Linked DNA regions of Homo sapiens: region 2 is linked to region 1. Evidence: fine-mapped QTL for protein levels in blood plasma. Region 1 holds a variant in brackets. A gene starts in the other region. All regions are shown on their reverse strands.

Region 1 (5,376 bases):
TGTGAACTGTGTGCGTGCATGGGATCTAGGTCGCCTTCTCCTTATGAGAGTCTAATGCCTGATGATCTGTCAGTGTCTCCCATCACCCCCAGATGGGACCATCTAGTGGCAGAAAAACAAGCTCAGGGCTCCCAGTAATTCTAAATTATAGTGAGTTGTAGAATTATTTCATTATATATTACAATGTAACAATACAGAAATTAAATGCATAATAAATGTAATGTGCTTGAATCATCCCAAAACCATCCCCCCAATTCTAGTCCGTGGAAAAATTGTCTTCCACGAAACCGGTCCCTGGTACCAAAATGGTTGAGGACTGCTGACAGAGAGGGTATGCAGGCCTCTATATGATCCCAGGGTTTCAGAGTCCCTTGGCTGCTGGTGCGTGATGACATTTTGTACCAACACACTGGTGTGCCAGGGCTCGTACTGACTCAGAGCTGCAGCGTGTCACTTCTCTGCATGACTCTTACACCTGAAGCAATGATCTGGGTGCTATGTCTCTCTGGGTGCCTGTCCAAAAGTACTGCCAGTAATGTGCTCAGGGAGGGGCTGCAGTCCCCTTGGTCATGCTGTTCCAAAGCACACATCAATGGAATTCAATCACAGGGAAGGAGAAAAGGCCAGTCCCTCCCTTTCCAAATAGTCCATCACTGAGAAATAAACTGCATCAATTTGATCAAACCTCAACATTTGTGAAAGCAGAGGTCCCAAACTCAAAAAGCCCTAGGGGCAAGCAGGCAAAATTAGTGAGCACAGAAGGCTGGGTAGTAGAGAGTGGTGACGATTATGGCAAGCTACGGAGGCACGTCCTGCCTAAAGAGGGCAGTAGTGACTCAGCCCTGTCAAGTACGGCCATGTTGAAGTGTGGATCTAGGGTTGCCTGACCTGACTTTTTCAGAAATGCTAGAAACCTGGATTTCTTTTTTATTAATGTACAATTTGCAAAACATTTGAGCCAAACAAACTGCATCCATGGCTAAATTTAGCCTGTGGCTGCTACTTGGCAACCTCTGCCCAGAAGCCAGAGTTGCAGGTTTGGGATAGATGAGTTCCATTACCACCAAGCAGATGTCTCGAGGTTCAACTTGCTAAGCCAGAGGGTGACACATTCACCTCCACAGACCCTGGCTCAGTCAGCACTTCAAGTTAGAAATGTCCTTTCTTCTCCTCTCCTGCCTTCCCCCAAGCTGCCTCTCTCAGCAGAGAAAGATGACTTTCCACCCTAACTCTAGAATAAGGCCACTGCTGAGTGCCTACTGCAGGAGCAAGAGATCCTACAGCCCAGCCATTCATTGTCTGTGCAGCCTGTTCATACCTGAGGAGCCAGGCCTGGGATCCCAGGTGGCTGCAGAAGAAGCGGGCTGTGGGGAATTATATTGGCAGCATCCTTCAGGAGGGTCAGATTCTCACAGGTGCATGGGTACCTGGCTGACAGCTAAATAGAAACAATGCCAAAACCACTGGTCACTTGGTTTGATTCTGTCCAGCTGATTATTGTAATTGGATGACAGGGGGATATTTCCTTCTCCTTTTCAATGAGTGATGGAAAGTGAGTGGACCTAGCTCAGGAGTCACCCTTCTGGGTGGTTATGTAAGGGGGAAGGTTATCTCCTTCCACAGGCAGAACTGTTCCTGCCTTTTGGCTACCTAAAGAATGAAATCAAGTCCAACCAAAGTCAAATGCCAGGAAATTTCAGAACTTCCTCACATTGCGTATTGCACCGTCTACAAACATCTTTGAAATTTTCCCTGCTCCAATACTCAGAGGGGATACAGAGTCAAAGAATGAATTAGAACAGAACCAACTACAATAGGGGAAAAGAAAGAAAGCAAGAAGAAAGCTAGCGAGAAAGCAAGAGAGCAAAAGAAGGAAAGCAAGAAAGAGAGAGACACAGAAATAAATACAGTGAAAAATGGCAGGATTTCTCATTTGGGGGTGATTGTGGCAATTAATGTGGAATAAGGAGAATAGTTTTGTTTTGATGGAGTTGCTGCATTGAAGTTCTTTAAAATGAGCTGTAGATTCAGAATTTTGTAATGCTGTGGATGGAGCCCTCTTCTGGAGAAATTTTTCAACAGGTATTACAAGATCAAAATGCAGAGATGTACACACTCACTCAGACGCGCACACAGAAACACTGTTGGCTACGTAGATGATATGACTGTCATTCAGGTGTAAATTAAATCCATAGTTTGTCCTTTTCCTACATTCCACTAAATATAAATTAACTAGACTCCCCAAGCAATTGTATTTTTGGAAGGAAATAAGGATGTTTTCAAGAACCTAGCTACACTTTAACCTAAACATTGAACTTCAGATTGAGGCTCAGTTTACACATCCAAGTGCTGATGCTTTTAGATAATGCAGTTATTGAGTATGTTGGTTTGTTGGGCAATTTCACTATAACACATAGAGGATACTTCTGGAAGTAAACAGATTTTACTTAACGGAAAACCCAAGGGCTAAAGATAGAAAAGGGGAGAAGGGAGGGAGGCAGAGTAGGAGCGATCAGCTAAGATGACTGTTGGGGCTTTTAGTATAGACTGTGGAATTACACAAATTCCAGATTACATACTCAGCTTTGCAGTTTATTAAACCTGTTTTGGGACTTGCTAAAAAAAAATATTCAGACAGGTGAACTCTATCACTGACTCCTTTCACTACATATTCCATTTCCCTAGTGCTCTGGAAATCTTACAGGCTGTCATGTATTGACCCTAGGGGGGGAGGGGGCAGCACCCTCTTCAACCCTGTGTCCTTTTCCTCATCCAAAAAGTTCTGCAAATAAACACTGCTCTTAAAACATAACACACAAATTTGCAGGAGCACTATAAGACACTGATTCTCATTGAAAATCCTGAAAATCAAGACTCTGACCCCTAGAGAGAACTCCCCACTTTATAGCGAAATCTCAGAATTCCATGGAACATTTTCAGTCACTCCCAAGCGACTGTCCTCCAAGCCTGAACCCCTCCCTAAATTCCTAATTCTTGGGGGATTACTCACTCATTGTTAGAACTTTTGGTTAGTTGTAAGTGCTACCCAAATAGGGAGGGGAATCACATTTACCATGGAATTTCTTGCTCATTTCTTTCTTGATTTGTTTCACAGTCATTACTTATCATAGGCAAATTCCAGAAGCCACTTCTGGGACAGACTTTCCCAAAACACCCCAGGGGATAGGAGAGGTGACTGTTCAACGGTGCCAGCTTCCAGTCATTGTTGCTTAGAATTCCTCACCTCCTACCAAAATGCCTAAAACAACAACCAAG[C/A]CAATAAGCTTACAGAGATTGATGGCTTCCAAAGCCAGACCCGATGCTTTACAACTGTGGTGGAAAAAAACATACAGGCTTGCCTGAACACCACCAGGGCCGAGTGACTAATTTGTTTTATTACATTGTTTTTCCCTTCTGTTTTCTCTCTGCCTCAGGAAAGTTGTGTTTTTGCTCGTCGACTCAAGGCCTCGAAGACTTTCCCCACTTTTTTCTATGGCACACAGAGTTCTGCACGTGAACTTCTTGCTGGTTAACTGGATTGCATCAAAATGATTTCTCTGTGAGGTACTATTGCTACCAGGATATCAATTACTATCCTAATGTGGACATTTGCTCTGATATGCATAACAATTGAAAATAGAAATAAGCCTCTCAGGGCAATCATTTCAATTCACAGCAAAATCTCTGCTTCCTTCATCTAAATAAATAGAGTGAGCCTTCAGAACCCACCTGTGCCAGCCTGGCCCTGGGTGAGGAGACACACCAGTTCATTTGCAAAAAGAACCGTGCGCAGAGCCCTTAGTGCATAAAAATCGATCCTGGGGCCCTGTCACGTGGTCTGTCTTGCTTTAAAGGAGGCATAACTTTGGGCAAGCCCTGGAATATGAACTGAGGTTGAAACCTGCCAAGAAAGAAAGAGGACTGTGAAGTCCTGGACAAGGCAATGGTAAGTGCTCTCAGACACCGACAGCTCCCAGACTGGCATGCATTGCATAGGACATCCTGTTGAATGCAATCCTATCCACTCAGCAGTCCTAGGAAGGCAGCAGATTATTTTACAATGGAGAACTTGGAAGCTCAAAGAGGTTAAACAACTTGCCCGGGTTGGTACCACTAGCAGATGGCAGGAAGGATCTGTCTGAATCCTTTCTGTCTGAGGCATGCTCCAAACCGCCTTGCTAAATTGGGGTATATGTACACACATACAGCCTTGGGGTCTCTAGGGTACAGGACATCTGGAAAACTGGTTCACAGCCAGGCTTGGGATCCATGGCAAGACTCAAGGCTGTAGGGACCCCAAGATAATCAACCAGAAAAGCCTGGTAGAAAAGGAGCTATAACTGGGCAGTCCTTAATCGGGACTGTATATCCAAGAAAGAAGTCAGGAGCTTGGGAGCGGGCTCAGCAGCCGGGCACTTGAATCTCCCCTGGTACTATCACCCATCACTGCATTTCTGAGATGTTAGCCCATTTCCAAAGTCTAAACCCAACATTGCTCTAACAGTGGTCTCCCTTAGAAGTCTGCACCAGTCTCCCCATCCCAGACAGTCCCTACCTGGGAACCCAACTCCCTTCCCCTGCCTTTCACCCGCAAACTCTCACCTGAGCCTCTACCCCGGCCAGGAACTCAACACTCATTCCTAGCACCCTGAGGCACTCCCTGTCTCTTTCCCTCCTTACTCTGCCCGGCCCTGCCCTGCCCTGGCTCTTATCCACCCACTTGCAGGCTGCCAGCTCACTCCAAGTCCCAACGCCTGCCAGAGAGGCGATGGGGGACTGGATCGGGGTGCTCTCCGAAACCACAGGCCCCTGAGCAGCGCAGGGCGTGCCCCCCGCAGCGGCCAGCACCCCAGGCCTGGCCTCGGAGCGCTGCTTTCCTGCACTCAAACTTCCCGAAATCTCTGAGGTGCAGAGGTGACTGCAGGCGGACCGCATCTCCCTCGCCCCCTCTCCTGGTTGGCGTGCCCTTCCCTCGCGCCGTGGCGCTCTGAGGGTTAACAAGCAGCTGCAGCCCGGGTGGGCAAGGCTTGAACTTTTCTCTGCGCTCCGCTCCCGCTCAGGGAAGGCAGCAGAGGCGGCAGCCCGGGATCTGGCCGGAGCTCCAGCTGGCTGGACAATAGGGGTGCGGGGGGCTGGGGCCTGCGCCCTGGCGGGGGACACGCTCCGGCCCTTTCGGGCCCGGGGTCTGGGAGCAAAAGGACCCCGATGCGGGTGCGGCCGGCGCCGGCGCCTTTGAGCGACAGCAGCAGCCGGGCTGAGGCTCTCTGCTGCCCCGAGGCGCCTTCCAGCGGGCAGCCGGGCTGTACCAGGGGGCCCGGGCGCCCTGGGAAGTCGGTGGTGCCTGCTCGGCCTCTCCAGCCCCGCATCCCGCAATCC
Region 2 (5,376 bases), not on the chromosome of region 1:
CAGCCCTGGGAGAGCTGTCAATATCTCCATGCCCAACACACACACATACCCGCACCCATACACACACCTCCACCTATGCACGCGCACACCCACACACCACATCCACACATCCACATACGTACGCACCACCCCCCCCCACACATACACACCCATCCAAATGAGTGTGCGCGCGCGCACACACACACTCACACACATACATACTGTCAAGGAACTAATAAAACAGAGCATCCCACGCACCACCACATTTTTAGGATAAGTCTCTCTCCACATGATTGAATTTCTGATTGAAATTCCTGATTGAAAGTATCTCTCCAAAAGACATCACCTCTTGACTTTAGCCGTATGTCTGGGACCACCGGTCCACTGGCTTGACAAGGAGTAGGTGGAAAGTTTGTCCCTACAGCCACCTTAAAAAGAGCAAGCATATAATCCCAGCCTTTTGGGAGGCTGAGGTGGGAGGACTGCTGAGCCCAGGAGTTTGAGGCCCCCCAGCCAATATAGTGAGACCTCATCTCTACAAAAAATTTTTAAAAATTAGCCAGGCATGGTTGCACACACCTGTAGTCCCAGCTACTCAGGAGGCTAAGATGGGAGGGTCACTTGAGCCTGGGAAATCGAGGCTGCAGTGAGCTGTGATTGCACCACTGCACTCCAGCCTGGGTGATAGAGTGAGACCCTGTCCCCAAAAAAGACAAGGAGCCAGTCTTGTGTCTATTTTTTTTTTTTTTTTTTTGAGATGGAGTTTTGCTTTTTTTGCCCAGGCTGGAGTGCAATGCTGTGATCTCAGCTTAAGACTCCTCGGCCAGGCGCAGTGGCTCACACCTGTAATACCAGCACTTTGGGAGGCCGAGGCAGGTGGAATATGAGGTCAAGAGATCGAGACCATCCTGGCCAATATGGTGAACCCCATCTCTACTAAAAATATAAAAATTAGCTGGGCGTGGTGGCGCATGCCTGTAGTCTCAGCTACTTGGGAGACTGAGGCAGGAGAATCGCTTGAACCTGGGAGGCGGAGGTTGCAGTGAGCTGAGATTGTGCCAAAAAAAGACTCCTCAAGACTTAAGGAAGAGTGGCAGCAGGGACTGCTGAGGAAGCTGCCGGGCTCCCTGTGTACCACTGGCCTTCATGAACAAAGCTGACACCATCATGCTCCTTCGGACATATTCTGCTAGCATAAAGGGACCCCCATCTCCCCAACCGAATTAGGCAGAGCTGGCCTTCCTTCTAGCGGAGTTCCTAGGAGTGAGTTGGTGCCACCCCTTGTGAGGCTTGATCCAAAAACCAGAACCTCTCCAGACCAGGGATCCATGTCCTCTAACACAAGAGGGGCAGACCTAACCTCTAAAATCCCTCCCACTCTAACCTTCAGCATCCACAGCTCAAAACAACCAGGATGCCTCAGAAACAGCACTCACTGGGGCGAGCAGGATTAGGCTTCAGAAAAACCAGGTAGATCCAGTTTCTTCTGTCAGAAAATGTTTTTTTTTAATTACAATTTTTCATAAGTTGCCACTATATGCCAGGCTTTTCTCATTTTATCTCATTAGAGCCTCTTTTTCTTTTCTTTCTTTTTTTTTTTTTTTTGACACAAAGTCTCGCTCTGTCACCCAGGCTGGAATGCAGTGGCAACAATCTCGGCTCACTGCAACCTCTGCCTCCCAGGTTCAGACAATTCTCCTGCCTCAGCCTCCCGAGAAGCTGGGATTACAGGCACCTGCCATCACGCCCAACTAATTTTTGTATTTTTGGTAGAGGCGGGGTTTCACCATGTTGGTCAGGCTAGTCTGGAACTCCTGACCTCAGGTGATCCACCCGCCTCGGTCTCCCAAATTGCTGGGATTACAGGTGTGAGCCACCATGGCTGGCCTCATTAGAACCTCTTGATTACCTTGTAAGATATCCCTATACCTACATATATCCCCAAATCCATAGACAACAACCATGTCACACTCATTGTATCTTGTGAACCCAATCCACTGTCTAGCCCATAGAATTTGCTCAGTAAATATTTGCTGAGTAGAATAAAGTGGCAGAGCTGGATTCCTAATTCCAGTCTGAAGTCAGTGCTCAGCTTGACTTTTCTGAAGCTGCCTTCATATATGCTTCTTCCTTTGCCCTACCTGGTCAAGCTAAGAGGCAATGTATTCCCTTATCCCCCTTAATCGAATTGGACTTCATCTGTGGACAGACCCTTCCACCTTACTGACCCTAACTTTTTCTCAATAGGTATCCTGCTACAGAGCGAACTGGGCAAAATTCAGAATGGTTCCATGCATCTTAGAAGGAATGTCTGAAATAACCCTTTCTCTCTTGGGGCTGTGGGAGAACGGAGGAAGAAGCCCAGTGCATATCTGCCTCCACCAGTGCTGCTCTGACCAGAGTATCCACCTGTATCCACTCCCACACTACTACGGACGGGAGAGCCTGGGTGATCCCAGCCAGAGGCTATGCATGCATCCCCCACCCAGCCTGGAACTTCACAGAATTGCTCTTACCCTCTGGTATGGAATCAGAACCACAGACTGCAGTCAGAATGGAAGTGAGGAGGAGATGGCCCAGCCTCAACAGCCTGGTACTCACGGGGGCAGGCAGTCCCCACCTCACAATTGTCATTTCCCATTGGCCAACTCAGTGAGGGCCAGAGGCCGGTGGGCAGGCACATGTCCCTGGCAGTTGCCCACAGCCTGCACCCTAGGGAACCTGGTACAACCCAGCTTGGGCTTCGGAAGCCAAGTGGAGCTTCAGTCAAAGCACTTGTGTTTCCAGGCCTTGACCCTTATTTTGCCTCCTACAACAGCAACAGAAGATGGGGCAAAAGTCAAAACCACAGCAGGAAAACAAGATTTTTTTCCTGCATCTGACGGAGAAACTTCCTAATGTAAATGAATTAATTGCTCAGTGGTCCAGGAGGTCTCCCCCTCCCATAGATTTGCCCTAATAAGTCAGGGACGCCAATTATCACACCACAGTCTTGCTCACTGTGCATGATTAAGTCTGAGACTGTGTACGTTCAGACAGTGAGTGCTTCAGAAGGGAGCACTGTCAGAGGGGTCTGCAATCAGGTAAGAAATAGAGCACATCCTCCACTCTCTGACCTGGACCCTGGATTTAGGAAAGACCTTGCACATGAATTCTGAGAACTGGGGTGTGGGGAAGTTCCTGGAGTGGTGTGGGGCTTGGCAAGTTAAAAAGGCCCTGAATTCTTAAAGCTTGTGGCCTCGAATCGTAATTTGAATCTAATATAATAGAAAACTTACATAAAATGTGATATTGGAATACCATCTTTCAAGATTTTTTGGTTCCAAAATTTCGGATAACATTTTGACAGCTACCTTGGTATGTGTGTGTGTGTGTTTGTGAGAGAGAGAGAGCCTGTTTTTCCAGTTCCTTAAGCATATATATGCCTATTCTGTCTCTTGTGGAACCCAGCTCTGGCCTAGAAGCAGCCTGGAGAACTGGAAGCTGCCACCCACTTAGGTGTTCCTAGAAAGTTTAGGCTTGAAGTGGCAACATTCAACACCTTGGACTTTCTTGGCACGCTCATGTTTTGTTTTTGAAGGGCAGGATCTGAGCCGGTTCTTGCAAGCCACACATTCTGATGAATTAAATTACGACCCCAGCAAGGGCTTAGGATGCCAGCACCAACTTCAACAAGACATCCAAAACAGAATTTTCTCAGACAGAGGCAGGGCAAGTGTCTGCCTGCCCCCCAGATATCATCTCCACAGTCCACACAGAGCCTAAAAATCTACCAGTAAAGTCAAGTCCACCATTAAAGTAAAGATCTGATGTAAAGCCTCAGCTTCCTGCTAATGTCCAAATATTTCAAGAGAAGTCACATTAGGCCGTTGAGATGAGAGACATGAGAGACTTTCCAAGGTCCCCCGGCTTAAATAAGTGGCCCATGAAAATGAGGTTCCATATAGTTTAGCAGGCTGATTGAACCAAGAAGACAACAAAAAGAAATAGAAGCAACTCTCAATTATATCACTGTTTGATTTTTGTTATGGTGTTTTCCTATTTATTTTTGGTTTATGTTACTGTCTGTTGCTATTTAATAGAACATAAACTTCAGGTCAGGTGCAGTGGCTCAGGCCTGTAATCCCAGTACTTTGGAAGGCCAAGACAGGCATATCACCTGAGATCAGGAGTTTGAGACCAGTCTGGCCAACATGGTGAAACCCCATCTCTACTAAAAATGCAGAAATAGCCGGGCGTGGTGGCACATACCTGTAGTCCCAGCTACTTGGGAGGCTGAGACAAGAGAATCACTTGAACCCAGGAGGTGGAGGTTGCAGTGAGCCAAGAGCACCATTGCGCTCTAGCCTGGGTGACAAGAGTGAAACTCTGTCTCAAAAAAAAAAAAAAAAGTAAACTTCAGGAGAGCAGAGATTTTGCCTATTCAAAGTTGTATCCCTTAGTTCCTAGAATAGAACCTGGCACAAAGTAGGCAATAATAAATGTTGAATTAATGAATAAATGAATGATCATATTCAACTTTCCTTTGGAGATAACTATTATTGTCTTTCATTTTACAAATAATGAATCTAGAGTTCAATGAGGGTAAATAATTTGTTCAAGGCACAAGTCTAGGATTTGAACCAGATCTGTCTAACTAAAAATCCCTATGCTTTCTAATTCCTCATGCCCTTCACCCCTCTTGATGGAGTGTGAGGCCTCAAGGTTGATGTATGTGCTTCAGGGTAGTTTCAGGGCTGGCATAAAAAGTATTTTCTTTGGCCGGGCACAGTAGCTCATGCCTGTAATCCCAGCATTTTGGGAGGCTGAGGCGGGCAGATCACTTGAGGTCAGGAGTCTGAGACCAGCCTGACGAAGATGGTGAAACCCCGTCTCCACTAAAAATACAAAAAAGTTAGCCGGGCGTGGTGGCAGGCACCTGCAATCCCAGCTACTCGGGGGTCTGAGGGAGGAGAATCGTTTGAACCCAGGAGGCGGAGGTTGCAGCGAGCCGAGATCGCACCATTGCACTCCAGCCTGGGCAACAGAGCGAGAATCCATCTCAAAAAAAAAAAAGTATTTTCTTCTAACTTTATAAGAATGCAGCTGGTTAGAGAAAGCTGTAGCTATTGCACAAGGTGGAATAACTTTAGCCCCACAATCACACCAAGACTGTGCTGGGCCTGGCTGTCAGTCAGTGACATTGTGAAAGCCTAGCATTTTGCGAGGCCTCAGGGCAATCTGCCACCCACCACAAAGGCCGTCATGTGGAAAGAGCCAGTTCTGTGGCATACTGGTTTAAAGACTGTAATTGAAAAACATTCAATCAGAAATGCCTTGAGGCTAGTCTTTTTCCCAGGACAGAACTATTACTACTTAGACCGAAATAACCAAATAAATGCGATCATTTCCTCCAGG

Which allele goes with the higher level. Alleles are on the strand shown, and positions count from the first base shown. The strength of an association depends on the size of the effect and on how common the allele is.
In carriers of allele A in region 1, the plasma level of the protein whose gene starts at base 2,535 in region 2 tends to be lower than with C alone (moderate association).

Evidence for each region. PIP is the posterior inclusion probability: the model's chance that the variant is causal. The UK Biobank Pharma Proteomics Project read protein levels with antibody pairs (Olink). The fine-mapping took linkage between variants from a reference panel, not from the people measured, so its PIPs are less certain.
Region 2: ADIPOQ starts here. The variant in region 1 is fine-mapped to the plasma level of the ADIPOQ protein (UK Biobank, PIP above 0.99).

What each region holds. Positions count from the first base shown.
Region 1 is chr16:82,627,584-82,632,959 of GRCh38, reverse strand. All of the region lies in intron 1 of CDH13 (cadherin 13), which reads right to left. Among named protein-coding and RNA genes, the nearest start is that of CDH13, 3.3 kb to the right of the region's middle. RefSeq lists an enhancer at 2,707-3,906. The variant C/A (reference allele first, on the strand shown) is at 3,277.
Region 2 is chr3:186,839,869-186,845,244 of GRCh38, reverse strand. ADIPOQ (adiponectin, C1Q and collagen domain containing) reads right to left here and starts at 2,535. Exons shown (of 3, transcript NM_004797.4): 1 at 2,496-2,535. RefSeq lists enhancers at 1-2,495, 5,078-5,235, a cis regulatory region at 3,084-3,111 and a promoter at 2,513-3,211.